Linked DNA regions of Homo sapiens: region 2 is linked to region 1. The links come from fine-mapping of genetic effects on gene expression. Tissue or cell type: whole blood. Region 1 holds a variant in brackets; the other region holds the start of a gene. All regions are shown on one strand. Distances are between the middles of the regions.

The links. PIP is the estimated chance that this variant, and not a neighbour inherited with it, causes the effect.
Region 2: VCL starts here. The variant in region 1 is fine-mapped to the expression of VCL in whole blood (TOPMed, PIP above 0.99).

The regions. Positions count from the first base shown.
Region 1 is chr10:74,171,475-74,179,576 of GRCh38, reverse strand. The region is part of intron 1 of ADK (adenosine kinase); the gene reads right to left. Among named protein-coding and RNA genes, the nearest start is that of ADK, 24 kb to the right of the region's middle. RefSeq lists enhancers at 2,955-3,074, 2,829-3,775. The variant G/A (reference allele first, on the strand shown) is at 4,826.
Region 2 is chr10:73,994,078-74,002,164 of GRCh38, reverse strand. VCL (vinculin) reads right to left here and starts at 4,049. Exons shown (of 22, transcript NM_014000.3): 1 at 3,790-4,049. The coding sequence starts at 3,957. RefSeq lists enhancers at 3,097-3,748, 3,821-4,020 and silencers at 3,701-3,750, 4,081-4,440.

The DNA.
Region 1 (8,102 bases):
GAGTGTATTTTAGCATGCTAATACATTATAATTAGTGTATAATAAGCAGTGAGGATGACCAGAAGTCACTCTCATCACCATCTTGGTTTTGGTGAGTTTTTGCTGGCTTCTTTACTGCATCCTGTTGTAGGGTCTTTGTGACCTGTATCTTCTGACTATCTCCTATCTCATCCTGTGACTAAGAATGCCTAACCTCCTAGGAATGCACCCTGGTAGGTCTCAGCCTTATTTTACCCAGACCCTATTCAAGATGGAGTCGCTCTGGCTCAAATGCCTCTGATAGGAACATGTCTGACATCATTATTGCAAAAACTAAAGATATGACATAATTGTATTAAATGTAGTGTTCACCAGGAAATGGCTGGTATCTGTAGGATGACCAACTCATTCAAAACTATCACCATACAGAGTCACTTCACTTTCAATGGCCTCCCTGCACTTCCCAACACCCAGTAGTTGTGTTCTCTTGGCTAACCCTGCCTACTTCTAAACCCCAGTTATCAAGTTCGTTGCAGGATAAGAAGAAAGCAAAAGAGTTACTATAGTTGTCTCTCATGATACTTTACAATTTCTGTCCACAGAAACAGCTTTTTCAGGAAGTTTAAATAGTATATTGTTTCTACAAAGGCACCATGCAGAGCACTAAATCATGGAAATCTGGATTCAATTCCTAATTTTGCCGCTGATTTTGCACAAGGCACTCAACTTTTGTCTCAGTTTCCTCAGGTGTAAAATGTAATAGCTGGTTTAAATAACATCTAAAAGAGCTTTCTCGAGCCATGTTACCATAGTTCAAGATTATGTAAAATACAGACTGACATCTGAAGAAACAAGCATAAATAAATTTTATTATCAGTTATCCATCCTTTCAAAACATGTCAAGTAAGGCTGGTGTCAACCTTTACATCAGTCTTTTAAAAAAAACTATCAACCCCTACAGTAAAAGATACATCCTGCTGTCACTTATTAAACAGCAGAAGCTTTAGATTTGGATGTTTCTCCAATGAGGCACGGTCAGGAAGATGATAGTCAATTAAAACTGAATCCACATAACAACTGATTCTTAACACAGAAAGTATTTGACCCCTACACCTAATTAGTAGCATTCTGTGATAATAAGAGTGGGAATGGGAAGAAGGGGAATTAACTCTGGGTATAATAGCCTAATTCTAATTCATCCTAAAATACTGTTAGCTTTAAAAGCTAGATTTATATGCCCCAATATAATTTACTGTGAAATCCTTCCATGTGGGTCTCCATGTTTCAGCACCTGAATCTCCTTCTGCATAATGAGATAAGTACTTTGTCTATGTTAGTACAGAATGAAGCAATTTAGACCAGTAGCGGTGGCTCACTCCTGTAATCCCAACACTTTGGGAGGCTAAGGCAGGTGGATCACTTGAGGTCAGGAGTTCGAGACCAGCCTGGCCAATATGGTGAAACCCCCATCTCTACTAAAACTACAAAATTAGCTGGGTGTGGTGGCTGGCGCCTATAATTCCAGCTACTTGGATGGCTGAGGCAGGAGAATCGTTTGAACCCGGGAGGCGGAGATTGCAGTGAGCAGAGAGCGCGCCATTGCACTCCAGCCTGGGCAACAAGAGCGAAACTCTGTCTCAAAAAAAAAAAAATATATATATATATATATATATAATTATGCAATTTAAGAGACAGACTATGTCCGAGTTCAGCACAGTTAGATCTTACTGAGGGTTAGGTTCCCAAGCTGTCTCTTAAACACAATGTAGTAAAAATTGGCATTGAGAAGCCCTCAAATCACCAGGACGGGTGGAGCCTGGAAAGCTCATAGACCAAAAATGAGCTTATTTTATTTCTCTTCACATTTTTGTGCTGGGGCCTCCCTTTCTCTGGGACAACAAAGCCCAAGTTCTGCTTTTAAAAAGGCCAGTCAGAACACTGGGTATATAAGGCAATTTATCTCTTTTTATAAATAGTTGAACTAGCGTAAATTAAACATTCAGTCAAGGCTACTGGGAGAAAGTGGACAAGCCCATTATCCTGTCCTCATTAACAAAAAAAGAACCTTCCAAACTGGAAGAGCAATTGGGGGAAAGTCTCCAGTTTCATGGATTTCGCTACATGCCCAGTATCTCTCAACTCATTTCACTTGTGACTCTGAGATAAAAGGAGTAAAGAAACAAGATGGTACCTTCGGGAACCAGGGTCCTAATTCCAGTCATGAGCAAACATTTTAGAGACACACAATTTCACAACTTGAGGGCAATATACCTGCATCAGAGAAGGGCCAACTTTGCAGGTCTGCTCCCGGCCAACAATGAAGTTCTGTCAGAGGGCATGACACGCAGGCATGACACACACTGTGCACGCCACGCTCCCTCCGGCCCTGGGCCGCCCCCGGGGGCGCGGGTGGGGCACATTTTTCATGGGAAATCCACTACACACCCAAGAACGCTTGCAACCCTGGAATTTGGGCGAGGGTCACCTCGACCAAGCAGCGACACACAGAACTCCGCAATGTGCCACAGACCCGAAAACTTCTGAGGAAAGCAGAAATGCCCAAATGAAAAGTGCGGAGGGAACCCCCAACACGAGGGGGACCAGAGGCGGAGGCAGGCTCCAGACCACCCGCGAGAAGGAGCGACAGTGCTCACGCGCTCGGGAGGCTAACGCCCAGCTCGGAGCAGTCAAGGCAGCCGCCCGCTCGTTACCTGACTGACGTCATGGCTTCGCCCTCCTGCCCAGCGCCACGGCGCCCGCGTCCGATGCTCTACGTCCGCTCGGGCAGCAGCAGGTACCACAGCAACTGCTTCCCGGCTCAGGCACTCAGCGACTGGGAGCGCGTCCTCACACACCCCGCGCGCGGGCGGCCCCTGGCTAGCCGGCCCGGCGTGCTGATTGGAGGGAAGGCGGGCGCTCCGCCCCGTGCGAAGGGCTGGAGATCGTCCCCAGACGCCGTGGGCCACCGCGTGTCTCGTGCCAGCTCACTGGCGCGCGGGCTAGCGAGATGACTAGCGGGCGCGGTGGCCATCTTGAGTCCTAGTAACAGCGTCCCGTCACCCCGCAGTTTACAGGGCGAGAGATTGGGTGCCCGCCCCAAAAATGGCCGCGCCTCTGGCAACCGGTTTAGCAGTCACGTGGCCACTGTCTACCTCGGCAAGCTCAGCTCCCTGTAACAGCACTTAGGAAAGAGGCGCTGTCAGGGCAGGTCTTCGGGAGTGGGATTTAACAGCCTGCAAAATCCATCTGCAAAGGTGGGGGGAAAAAAAGCAACAGCCTGGGAAGCCTCAGCCTAGGAAAATATAAAATGCCTGGCAACGGCAGCACGACGTACTAATTCCAGTCCGCAGCCTTTGAGAGTCAATTGCTGGATCTGATGGTCCCAAACGTTCCTGAACTTCAGAAACACTTAGAGCAGCTTATTTAATATGGAAAGTGTCACTTTATGTATCCGAATCTAGAAAGGTAGGCCTGGACATCGGTATTTTTAGCAAGTTACCAGGTGAATCAGGTACAGACATAAAATTTTACAACCTCTGGGCCCCACTCAAGGCTATCCTATTTGACACAATTACCTCACTTTCCAAAGAAGCATGCGGGCTATAAAAAAAAAAGAATCTAAGACCATAGAGGGGAAAAGTGGATGGCACCCTAACTCCTGGCTCTAATCTTACAGTTTAATGCAGTTGAAGAGTTAAGAAATTGTGAACCAATAAAAGGAAAATTAACTCCAACTATGAAAAGGGGGGAATCAGTAAATGCTTTATGATCCAAATTGCTTTTATTCCTTTATTCTCTGTGCAATAATTTTTTTAATTTTCATTTTTTTATTTTTGTAGAGACAGGGTCTCACTATGTTGCCCAGGCTGGTCTTGAACTCCTAGCCTCAAGCAACCCTCCCACCTTGGCCTCCCAAAGCACTGGGAATATAGGTGTGAACGACTGGGCCCTGTTCTACAATGTTATTAATAGACTACAATATCCTGTGGCATTAACTTACTGACCATCTAGGATGGTGATCAATTTCATATGTCTGAAATCAGTTATATCAGAAGCAACCAATACCATCCGATATTGAAATGTGGCTGATGGGACTGAAGAACTTAATTTTTAATTTATTTAATTTTAATTCATTTAAATTTTATAACTGAAGCAATATATTTTTCCACTAAACACAATTGTATTGTTTTAGTTGGACTACATTTCACTTTTTTTTTTTTTTTGAGCTGGAGTCTTGTTCTGTCGCCCAGGTTGGAGTGCAGTGGTGCGATCTCCAACCTCTGCCTCCTGGGTTCAAGCGATTCTTGTGCCTCAGGCTCCCGAGTAGCTGGGACTACAGGCATGCGCCACCGTACCTGGCTAAATTTTTTTGTATTTTTGGTAGAAACGGAGTTTCACCATGTTGGCCAGGCTGGTCTCAAACTCCTGGCCTCAAGCGATCTGCCCGCCTCAGCCTTCCAGGCGTGAGCCAACACTCCTGGCCTCTTTTTTACCTTTTTTAATGTGGCTACTAGAAAATTTAAAATTACAGGAATCTTGCATTATATTTCTACAGAACAGTGCTGCTCTAGTCTAAGTTAGCTTTACCTATCACTGTCCCTGTGATAGAATAATTAAGTTCACAAAATGAAATTAGTAAGGAAGCCAGTTTATACAAATCTGTTTTCTTGCTAGCCATAAAACACATCAAATATTCCAGAAGATTTCAAGTTTCTTTAGAAAATGCTATTTTTAGCACTGTTCTCTTTAACCTGGGAAATGCCTATCCAGAATGAAGCCATGGTCTATAAAACTGATGTGTTCAGTCCATGAGTAAAAGCTGTTAAAACACTGAGCTATACTTGGC[G/A]TGGTTAAGACTTTGACCGAAGGTCCACAAGCAGAATTAGTCAATTGTTCCTCTGGATTAAACAGGATCTGAAGCAAAGCAGCAGCTGGATTAGCAATTCACAGTGGTGGAGACACTGGCTAGAGTTACCCACCTTCTCTTGTGGAAAATGTTGATAGATAATCCACATTTCACACCATCAGTGCTTTTCAAACTTTAACATGCATACAAATCTCGTGGATCTTGTTAAAATGCAGGTTTGGCACTGCAGGTATCAGTGACCAAAATTTTGCATTTCTTTATGTTCCCAGGTCTCACTAATTGCTTCTGGTCTGTGGGCCAGGCTGAGTAGCAAGCCTGTAAAGGTAGCAAAAGGTATCTGGTTTGCAACTTCTGCTTGACTTCCTATTACCTGTATGACTTTAAGCTGGTTCTTTTTTTTTTTTTTTTTTTTTTTTTGAGATGGAGTCTCAGTCTATCACCCAGGCTGGAGTGCAGTAGCATGATCTCGGTTCACTGCAACCTCCGCCCCCATCCCCGGGGTTCAAGCAATTCTCCCACCTCAGCCTCCCGAGTAGCTGGGACTAAAGGCACGCACCACCATGCCTAGCTAATTTTTTTTTCGTGTTTTTAGTAGAGACAAGGTTTCACCGTGTTGGCCAGGCTGGGCTTGAACTCCTGACCTCAAGTGATCCGCCCACCTCAGCCTCCCAAAATGCTGGGAATACAGGCATGAGCCACCACACCCAGCCTTTAAACTGGTTCTTAAACTGTCTGTCCCTCGGTTTACCCATTATATGCTGTTCAGGGCACTGTGAAGATTAAAATTTAATTAACTATAGTAAAGAGTCTAATAGAATCCTTGGCACATGGCATAATTATTACTTTGTTATTATCATAATAGTTAAACTTACATCTCTGGAGGCATGATCCCAAAGCTAACATGAACTTGGCCCTCTGAACAATCAAATGCACTTTTGCTCATGCTTAACATACTTTGGTAACACCTACCTTTGATTTGTAACATTAAAATTTTCAAATTAAAGCCAGGCACAGTGGCTCACGCCTGTAATCCCAGCACTTTGGGAGGCTGAGGCAGGAGGACCACAAGGTCAGGAGTTCGAGACCAGCCTGGCCAATATGGTGAAACCCCATCTTTACTAAAAATACAAGAATTAGTTGGGCGCGGTGGCACACACCTATAGTCCCAGCTACTTGGGAGGCTGAGGCAGGAGAATCACTTGAACCTGGGAGGCAGAGGTTGCAGTGAGCTGAGATTGCTCCACTGCACTCCAGCCTGGGCAACAAGAGCAAGACTCCATCTCAAAAGAAAAAAAAAAAGAAAGAAAAAGAAAAAAAATTTTCAATTTGAAAAAACCTAGCCGGGCGCAGTGGCTCACACCTGTAATCCCAGCACTTTGGGAGGCCAAGGCGGGTGGATCACGAGGTCAGGAGATCGAGACCATCCTGGCTAACACAGTGAAACCCCATCTCTACTAAAAATTAAAAAAAAAATTAGCCGGGCGTGGTGGCGGGTGCCTGTAGTCCCAGCCACTTGGGAGGCTGAGGCAGGAGAATGGTGTGAACCCAAGGTGGAGCTTGCAGTGAGCAGAGATCATGCCACTGCACTCCAGCCTAGGTGACAGAGCAAGACTCCATCTCAAAAAAAAAGAAAAAAAAAAAACTAATTTTGATACCAAAACAGGTAGTCTTAAAACTTTATTTTTTAACAAATATACTAAATTCAGTATAATTAAGGGAAGATATGGGTCTGCAATATTAAAATAGTTAATAAAATTGAAGCCACACCAAAGATATTTTTTAACTCATTTTTGATATTTGCATCTAACCGTTTTTTTTTTTTTTTTGACATGGAGTCCCACTCTGTCACCAAGCTGGAGGGCAGTGGTGCACTCTTGGCTCACTGCAACCTCTGCCTCCCGGGTTCAAGCAATCCCCTAGGCGTGCGCCACCAGGCCTGGCAAATTTTTTGTATTTTAGTAGAGATGGGGTTTCACCATGTTGGCCAGGATGGTCTTGATATCCTGACCTCGTGATCCGCTTTTTTTTTTTTTTTTTTTTTGAGATGGAGTTTCACTCTTGTTGCCCAGGCTGGGGTGCAATGGCGCGATCTCGGCTCACTGCAACCTCTGCCTCCCAGGTTCAAGTAATTCTCCTGCCTCAACCTCCCTAGCAGCTGGGATTATAGGCATGTGCCACCATACCCGGCTGATTTTGTATTTTTAATAAGAGATGGGGTTTCTCCATGTTGGTCAGGCTGGTCTCAAACTCCCAACCTCAGGTGATCCGCCCACCTCGGCCTCCCAAAATGCTGGGATTACAGGTGAGCCACCGCGCCCAGCCAATCAGCTGTCTAGCCAGGTGCAATGGCTCACACCTGTAATCCCAGCACTGAGGGAGACCAAGGCAGGAAGACCACTTGAGCCTAGGGGTTCAAAACCAGCTTGGGCAACATAGGGAGACCACACACCTGTAGTCCGAGCTACCTGGGAGGCTCAGATGGAAGGATGGCTTGAGCCCAAGAGTTCAAGGCTACAGCAAGCTGTGTTTGCGCCGCTGCAATCTAGCCTGAGAGATAGAACAAGACCCTGTCTTAAAAAAAAAAAAAAAAAAAGAAAATCCATGTACTGTAGGAAATGAAAAAAAAGTTTTTTATTAATGGTCAAAAAAATTTTCAAAAAGTTTATTCTCTCAAAATTTAAGTACCAGTCGTGTCAGCAGTTACAAACACAAAAATATTATTTCAAGAAAGAGGACTCATGTGATCTTTCAGAGTCAATAATGTAGCGACAAAAGTAAAGATATATTTTCCCAGGTAAAGGCAGAAGTTCTGTTATTCACAGCAACTTCCCTTCCCCAGCCTTTCATGCTCTATTTCTAATCTTTCCATTCTACTCTTTTTCTAAATACACACACACACACACACACACACACACACACAGAGAGACAGAGAGAGACAGAAAGAGAGTGAGCGCTGAGAGAGAGAGTACTGAGTAACTACTACTTTTGATCAATTTTCTAAACAATTTATTTCAACCCTATTTTTTTCCTAAAAGCCTAGCTTATCCTACTTTAGGAGAAAATAGTCAACTGAAATTTTTAACCTTCAGTAGTCTTTTTACAATTAGAATAGCTGAATCAAGATAAGTGGGTCTGAATAGTTTGCTCTTCGTAAGACTGATATGTAAATATTCCATATACTTTATCTAATCTTGTGGTCTGGCCCTATAAAAGCAATCAGATACATAACCCAAAATAGCTAAGTGCCTCCAAATAG
Region 2 (8,087 bases), 180 kb after region 1:
AATAAGAGCGTAACTCCATCTCAGAAAAAAAAGACTTCCAATTCAGTATCATACTGATTGTGACAGGCATCACACTTATTGCTTTGACATTGGAAGGGGTCTCAATAAACACCTGCTTGATAAGTGAATGACTATTACAACAATTGAAAATTTCATCTTCATCTAGTAAATTTTAATTATGGAAATATCCAAAAGTCATTTAGGCTCAAGAACAGTAAATGAAGTAGTTGAGCTCAAGAATGCCTACTTCAGTCAAAATGTACACTTTCTTGACCAAAATAAGACTAATTTGGCATACGTATGTAAATAATCTGAAAGAAATTCCCAAAGAAAAGCACTAGAATAAGGATATAACCTCCCAAAGTAACTCCCAAGAAATACTCACCCAGATTACATAAATTCCAGAAGATTTGTTCTAAAATCAGTTTCATTATTTTACCGTAATACTATGTTTCTTTTCTAGCAAATTCAGAGTTCAATTATCCAGTTCTATTATTTCTTCTTCTAATATATTTCTGATTAATTCCTTCTCCATTTTCCCTGCCACTCGCAAGTCCAGGCCTTCATTTTCTTCATAACCAACCAATTTTAAAAGCTTCCCAATTTGTCTCCCTTCCCATAGTTCCTTCAACAATATTTATTGAGTGATCCTATGTGCCAATTTTGAGGGCAGGAACTGAGGACCATATAAAGAAATATCAGACCAGGCACAGTAGCTCACAACTGTAATCCAGCACTTTGAGAGGCCAAGGCGGGAGGATTGCTTGAGCCCAGGGATTCGAGACCAGCCTGGGCAACATAACAAGACCCTGTCTCTATTTAAAACCAAAATAAAATTTTTTAAAAAGAGAGGAATATCAGACAAGGCTTGACCTCCAGGAACAATCTTGAAGCATGTACAGAATCCACATATTTAACGGTCACAGTTGGCACCAAGAATGTGAAGCAATGGGTAGGTCCTCTGGCCTCCCCAAAACACACTATACTATTCTCACACGCCATTCTCACGCAGTCTTTCTCACACACTATTCTCATCCTCCTTCCCCTCCTGCTCTCTTTGTTCATCCTTTTGGATAAGGCCTATGTTACACTGCCCATATGTCACGCACTAACTTCATCTCCAATTTCTCTCCAACTTGTCTCCTGAGCTGCAATCAAGATAATCTACTTGCTGTAACCTGGAAGTGACTTACTCACAAGTACCTTTGTTCATGATTAACTATTTATCAGCACAATCCTCCCTACTTTGTCTCTGCTAACCCATAGCTACCACCAATCTCAAGTCCCCTCTTTTGTATGTGTTGGAAAGTATATAACTTAACTACATATCATTGTTTTCATCTTATAACCTTATTTCTTTTGTATTTGTCTCACAGTGTGTATTACAGTGTTTCCTAACTAAGGCCGTATATCACAATCACCTATGGAGCTTCCTAAAAAATACGAAGGCCTGGCCGGGCACAGTGGCACATGCCTGTAATCTCAGCACTTTGGGAGGCCGAGGCGGGCAAATCACAAGGTCAAGAGATGGAGATCATCCTGGCCAACATGGTGAAACCCCGCCTCTACTAAAAATACAAAAATTAGCTGGCCACGGTGGTGCGAACCTGTAGTCCCAGCTACTCGGGAGGCTAAGGCAGGAGAATCACTTGAACCTGGGAGGAGGACGTTGCAGTGGGCCCAGATCGTGTCACTGCACTCCAGCCTCGTGACAGAGGAAGACTCCATCTCAAAAACAAACAAACAAACAAACAAACAAAGGCCTTCAGCTACTTGGGAGGCTGAGGTGGGAGGATTTTTCTCAGTCCAGGAGATGGAGGCTGCAGTGAGCTATGATCACGCCATTGCACTCCAGCGCCTGCGTGACAGAGCGAGACCCTGTCTCAAAAAAAAAAAAAAAAAAAAGCAAAATACAAAGGCCTTGACCCGTGGGAGCTGGACATCTTAATTTCTAAAAAGCCTCACTGATGATTTTCATGAACACTCTTAAGCTGAGAAGCACTGATTTATTGCAGTGTTTTCCATATAGCAGACATTCAATGCTTATTAATTCATGGCATGGAAGCCCATAAATAACTTTTCTCTAAATAGCCTAACCAGATATCAACCCCTAGACTACACTAGCTCTGTTCCAAGTGCAACATGTGGTTTTAAGATTTCATTTCCTGAAGTACTACATGGAGAGACACTATTACCTTGTCTCTTTACATTGTTTCCTATTTGTTGAAAAATGGAGGCCTGGAATGCAGCCATGTTAGACAACACTACATAAGAATGTACTCTGGAGTGTTCTGTTCAAATTAGTTATAAAAAGAAGAACAATGTACAAGTAGACATTGTGAATGAATACAGCATTCTTACTGAATGAATAGATTCTTACTAAAGCTATAGAGAAGAAAGATCAGGAATTTGGTCGGTGGTGTCACCCTGTCTTCCTAGCTACCAGTCTCCTAAATTGCTTGAGACAGTCCAGGGACCCCTGAAGACTGAGGAAGACTTTCAGCTGCTAAAGAGCCTCTAAGTGCACTAAAGTGCTCAAATCAGAAAAGTAACCCAAGCCCCACCCAGACAGACCCACAGTTGCCGCCCAACTGCCCTGACACACACTATTTACACAGCTCAGTGGGGGAGCAGTATGAACTTTTTCCAAAATTGTTCCTCACAAGCAGGACCAGTCTGAGTCACCCACCCAGGGTGGGAAAGAAAAGTGTGACATTAGCCAGGGGAGTCTTGGGAGACTGGTCTCAGCACCTCTTTTTTCCCATTTCAGACGTGGGCTCCACCTCCTCCAGGAATCACCTCGGTTATGAGTCACAGCTGTGGGTTACAGGGGTCTGCAGAGCCACCAGGAAAGTTGTGGATGGGGAGCGGATGCCCCAGCCTTCTCTCCGGCAGGGGCGGCAGATCCCAGATTCCACAGGCCTCTCCCAACAGCTCCATCTTGCTTCCTGCCAGGAGGAGGGGCCAAGGAGGGCCCCCGAGTCTAGAAAGGCCCCAGTGGGAGGAGGCCGTTTGACAGCAGGTAACGCCAGGTGAAAATGTCCACAGGAGGGAATGAAAGGAAGGGCAGCAGGGCTGAGCGGAAGGAAAAACCGGGCTTGTGGTCACGAATGACTGCATAAAGGTGTGAGAGTGCCAGAGGAGTGAGCATAAGTAAAATGCCCAGGAGGGAGGAGGAGGCGACAGAGAGTGAGGCAAGTGAATAAAAGGGCGGAATACAGGGAGCTCTGGGGAGCGGGGGTGGGCGAGGCGGGTCTCAGGGTGAGGGGCAGAAGTATTAGAAAGGAGGACAACGTGGCTCAAATAAGGATCCCTAGAAGAGAAGGCAAGGGATCCGTGGGAAGGCCCGCTCTCCCTCCCCCGCACAGCCAGATCGAGGAGGCCTAAAAGGCGCTGAGAGCGAGGAAGTCAACGTGGGGGCGAAGCCTGCGCGGGGCAGGGACCCTCGGACATCCCAGCAACTCTCATTTATTGGGTGTCTGCTGTGGGCCACACGCCGCGCGAGGCACTCCACGAATAATACCTCGCCATATCTTCACGACAAGCCCGCAAGGCAGCCTTTTTCATGACTGCTCCCATTTTATAGATGAGGACACTGAGGCCCGGAGAGGCTCAGGACTCGCTCAAGGTCACAGGGCGGAGAAGAGGCCATTCGAACCCTCGGCGCCTGGCTCCGGAACCCACGCGGAAAGCCACGGCCAGCGAGCCGGCCACAGGCAGCCGCGACGCGGGCCGGGGCCCCGGGGATACCTCCCGCGCCCGCTCCCGCGCCAGGCCCTGCGCGCTCACCCGGACGAGGTTGCTGACGGCCGCCTGCACGGCGGCCACGGGCGCGGTGAGGTCAGGAATGGCTTTGCCGTCCACCTCGCCCTCCTCGTGCATTATCACCAGGTGGGAGATCTGCTGTGCCACCGGCTCCAGGATGCTCTCGATCGTGCGCGTATGAAACACTGGCATCGCGGCGGCGAGCGGGGCGGCGAACCGCGGGCGACAGAGAAGTAGGATCCACGGGGCCGGGAACCGGCGAAGAGACAGACTGTGCAGCGACTACGGAGTCGGGGCTTCCCTCGGCGTAACCAGCCTCACGGGCTCCCCGCCCCCTCTCGTCGCCGCGCCCAATGGCAGCGCAGCTCAGACCTGGGCCGCCACTCCTACTGGTCCCTTTTCGAGATGCTCCGCCCCAGCCACCGCGCCGCCAAACCCCGCCCCTCCCCCATTCCTAAGGGAGGGGCCTGGGATTGGGGCTGAGCCGCCGGGATTGCTACCGGATTCCCGAGCCCTAACGCCGGGCGCTCCTTATAAGGGCATGGTGGGAGCGGAGCGGGCCGCTGGAGCCGGCTGGTCCCGCCCCCGGGCCGCCTCCCGCCTCGGATCTGGGGGGCTCCGCCCCTCTGCAGAATCACCTCAGCGGGGCGGGGTCTCCTCACCTCAAGCGGCGCTAGAGTTTGATGAGACCAAGGGGTCTCCCACGTCCCCTCCTCAACTTTTCCCTTCACACGAAACCCTCAAAATACTCCTTCCATTCCCTCCCAGCAATGCATGGGAAGGTTTTTAGTAAAAGATTCAAACAGCAGAGGTGCACTGAGAAACAGCAGCGTCCCATTCACGTAAACGCAGACTCCGCCCCCTGCCCTCCTCAAAGACATTCTGTTTAACAGCTGGGTGTGTAGCCTTCTAGACTTGTCTATAGATTCACTTCTACATATATATTTTCTAACTAAATGAGATTAATAAACATTTTCCTGGAACTAGGTATGATTGCCCTTGATTAAAATGCCCTTATCTTTCACTGCTGGTAGAGGTCTACCTCATTCTTCTTAATGACTGCATGATATTCCATTGCATGAAATAAAACTATTTACAGAACCAATTTCCTACTCATGGACTTGGGTTGGGTCCTGGTTTTCACTATTAAAAAACAATTCTGCATGAATTGTACTTACCCCTGTGCTGTGCATCTGTGTATTTATCTAGCGCAAATGCCTACCAGGAAAGAGAAAAACGCAAAAGTATATGCATTTTATATTTTGATAGGTAAGACCAAATTATCCAGTTCCCTCACGCTTTGTATAAGACATCTTCCAGGCCGGGCGCGATGGCTCACGCCTGTAATCCCAGCACTTTGGGAGGCTGAGGCGGGCGGATCACGAGGTCAGGAGATCTAGGCCATCCTGTCTAACACGGTGAAACCCCGTATCTACTAAAAATACAAAAAAAATAGCCAGGCGTGGTGGCGGGCGCCTGTAGTCCCAGTTACTCATGAGGCTGAGGCAGGACAATGGCGTGAACCCGGGAGGCGGAGCTTGCAGTGAGCGGAGATCGCGCCACTACACTCCATCCTGGGCGACAGAGCAAGACTCTGTCTCAAAAAAAAAAAAAAAAAAAAAAAGACATCTTCCAAACGTCTTACTTACTTCAAATTCGCTTTTGCCCAAGCTTTCCCATTCTGAGGTAAACACTTTCAGTAATGCCTCCAAGCAAAAGATTCTCACATCAAATGAAAATTTTTGTCTAGTCCTACCACAACCACCACAGCTGTTTTCTCTGCCCATTACTTTGTGTTAATAGTATAAATATTTGGGTGATGGGGCCAGGCACGGTGGCTCACGCCTGTAATCCCAGCATTTTGGGAGGCTGAGGCAGGCAGATCACCTGAGGTCAGGGGTTCAAGACCAGCCTGGCCAACCTGGTGAAACCCCGTCTCAACTAAAAATACAAAAATTAGCCAGGTGTGGTGGCAGGTGCCTGTAATCCCAGCTAATCGGGAGGCTGAGACAGGAGACTTGCTTGAACCTGGGAGGTGGAGGTTGCAGTGAGCTGATACCGTGCCATTGCACTCTAGCCTGAGCAACAGAGTGAGACTCCCTGTCCAAAAAAAAAAAAGTTGAGTGATGGAACGATATGATTTTTTTATTTTAAAAATTATTTTATTTTATTTATTTTTATTTATGTTTTTATTTTTTGAGATAGGGTCTCACTCCGATTGTCCAGGCTGGAGTGCAGTGGTGTGATTTCGGCTCACTGCAGCCTTGACCTCCCCAGGCTCAGGTGATTCTCCCACCTCAGCATCCCAAGTAGCTGGGACCACAGGTGCATGCCACCACGCCCGGCTAATTTTTGTATTTTTGATAGAGACAAGGTTTCGCCATGTTGTCCAGGCTGATCTCAAACTCCTGGACTCAAGAAATCCACCTGCCTTGGCCTCCCAAAGTATAAATGGCCTCCCAAAGTATATATAGCCTCCCAAAAAGTGTATGATTTTGTTAAATCCTCACCCTGTCCCCACTTTGCTGATTGTATATTTATGTGTAGTTTAACTTGTTCTTCTGAACTATATATTTCCTACAGATTGGCAGGAAGACTCAGAGGCTTGATCATGTAATCATCTTTAATGCCTGACTGGCCATATTAACCTCCCAAAAAGAATATCACATTGCACATCCAGCCCATGTGCTCCCCAACATCCATAATCATACCCATTTCCGTCCCCCTGATTTCCACATTCACTGGCTCCCTCTAAAATCTTTCTTGGTGCCTGTTAGCATGTGTTAACACCAATGCCCTCCACAATCTGGGTCCAGACCAACCTTACTGCCTTCAGCTTCCCCACCTTAGACCCACAGACAGGCAGGTTAAACAGTGCAAACAGCATAAATTCAGAGCCATCCAGAGCTCAAGCCAGAACCCCAGCTTCACAACTTGATGGAGATATAACTCCGGCAAGTGGGATAATAGCACCGTCACAGAGCTGATGTAAGGGAATTTGTAAAGCACCTAGGAGACCTTCAGTAAAAGAAACCATTATCATTATTAGAGCAGTCACAAACTGACATATTCACAGTCTCCAGAAATTCCTGGTAGAGTTTCACTTTTGAGCTTTTCTCCACATTTCTTTCCCACCTAGAAAGCTATCAGTGCTTGTCTAACTCTTACCTATTGTGGTAGACAGAATTCTAAGATGTCCCCCGGGATTTCTCACTCCGAATATACACACTCTCCATAATCCCCAGGCTGTGACTATAAGGGATTTTACTTTCATAATCAGATTACATTATATAGCACAGTTGGTCTTAAAACAGGGAGATTATCCAAGTGGGCTTGACCTAATCACATGAGCTCTTTTAAAGCAGAGAGTTTTCTCTGGCCAGTTACAACAAATGAACTCAAAAGCACAAGAGGATTTGATGAGCTGTTGCTAGATTAAAGACGTGGGAGGCCATGGGTCAAGGTATGTGGGCAGCCCCTAGGAGCTGAGAGTGGCCCCTGACAGCTAGCAAGGAAACGGGGAAGTTGGTCGCACAGTTACAAGGAGCTGAACTCTACCAACAAGAAGAATGATCTTGGAAACAGATTTTTCCTCCAGCTGAGAGCTCCAGGGGACACCTTGTTTTCAGTCCAGTAGACACCTTTATTTCAGCTTTGCGACACTGAGCAGAGAACCCAGTCACACCATGCAGGACTTCTGACCTACACAGTTGTGAGATAATAAATGAGTGTTGTGGCCAGGCGCGGTGGCTCACACCTGTAATCCCAGCACTTTGGGAGGCTAAGGCGGGTGGATCATGAGGTCAAAAGATCGAGACCATCCTGGCCAACATGGTGAAACTCCGTCTCTACTAAAAATACAAAAATTAGCTGGGCATGGTGGTGCGTGCCTGTAGTCCCAGCTACTTGGGAGGCTGAGGCAGGAGAATCACTTGAACCCGGGAGGCAGAGGTTGCAGTGAGCTGAGATCATGCCACTGTACTCCAGCCTGGTGACAGAGCGAGACTCCGTCTCAAAAAATAGTAATAATAAGGCCGGGCGTGGTGGCTCACGCCTGTAATCCCAGCACTTTCGGAGGCCGAGGCGGGTGGATCACGAGGTCGAGAGATCGAGACCATCCTGGCTAACACGGTGAAACCCCGTCTCTACTAAAAATACAAAAAATTAGCTGGATGTGGTTGCGGGCACCTGTAGTCCCAGCTACTCGGGCGGCTGAGGAAGGAGAATGGCGTGAACCTGGGAGGCGGAGCTTGCAGTGAGCGGAGATTGCGCCACTGCACTCCAGCCTGGGCAGTAGAGCGAGACTCCATCTCAAAAATAAT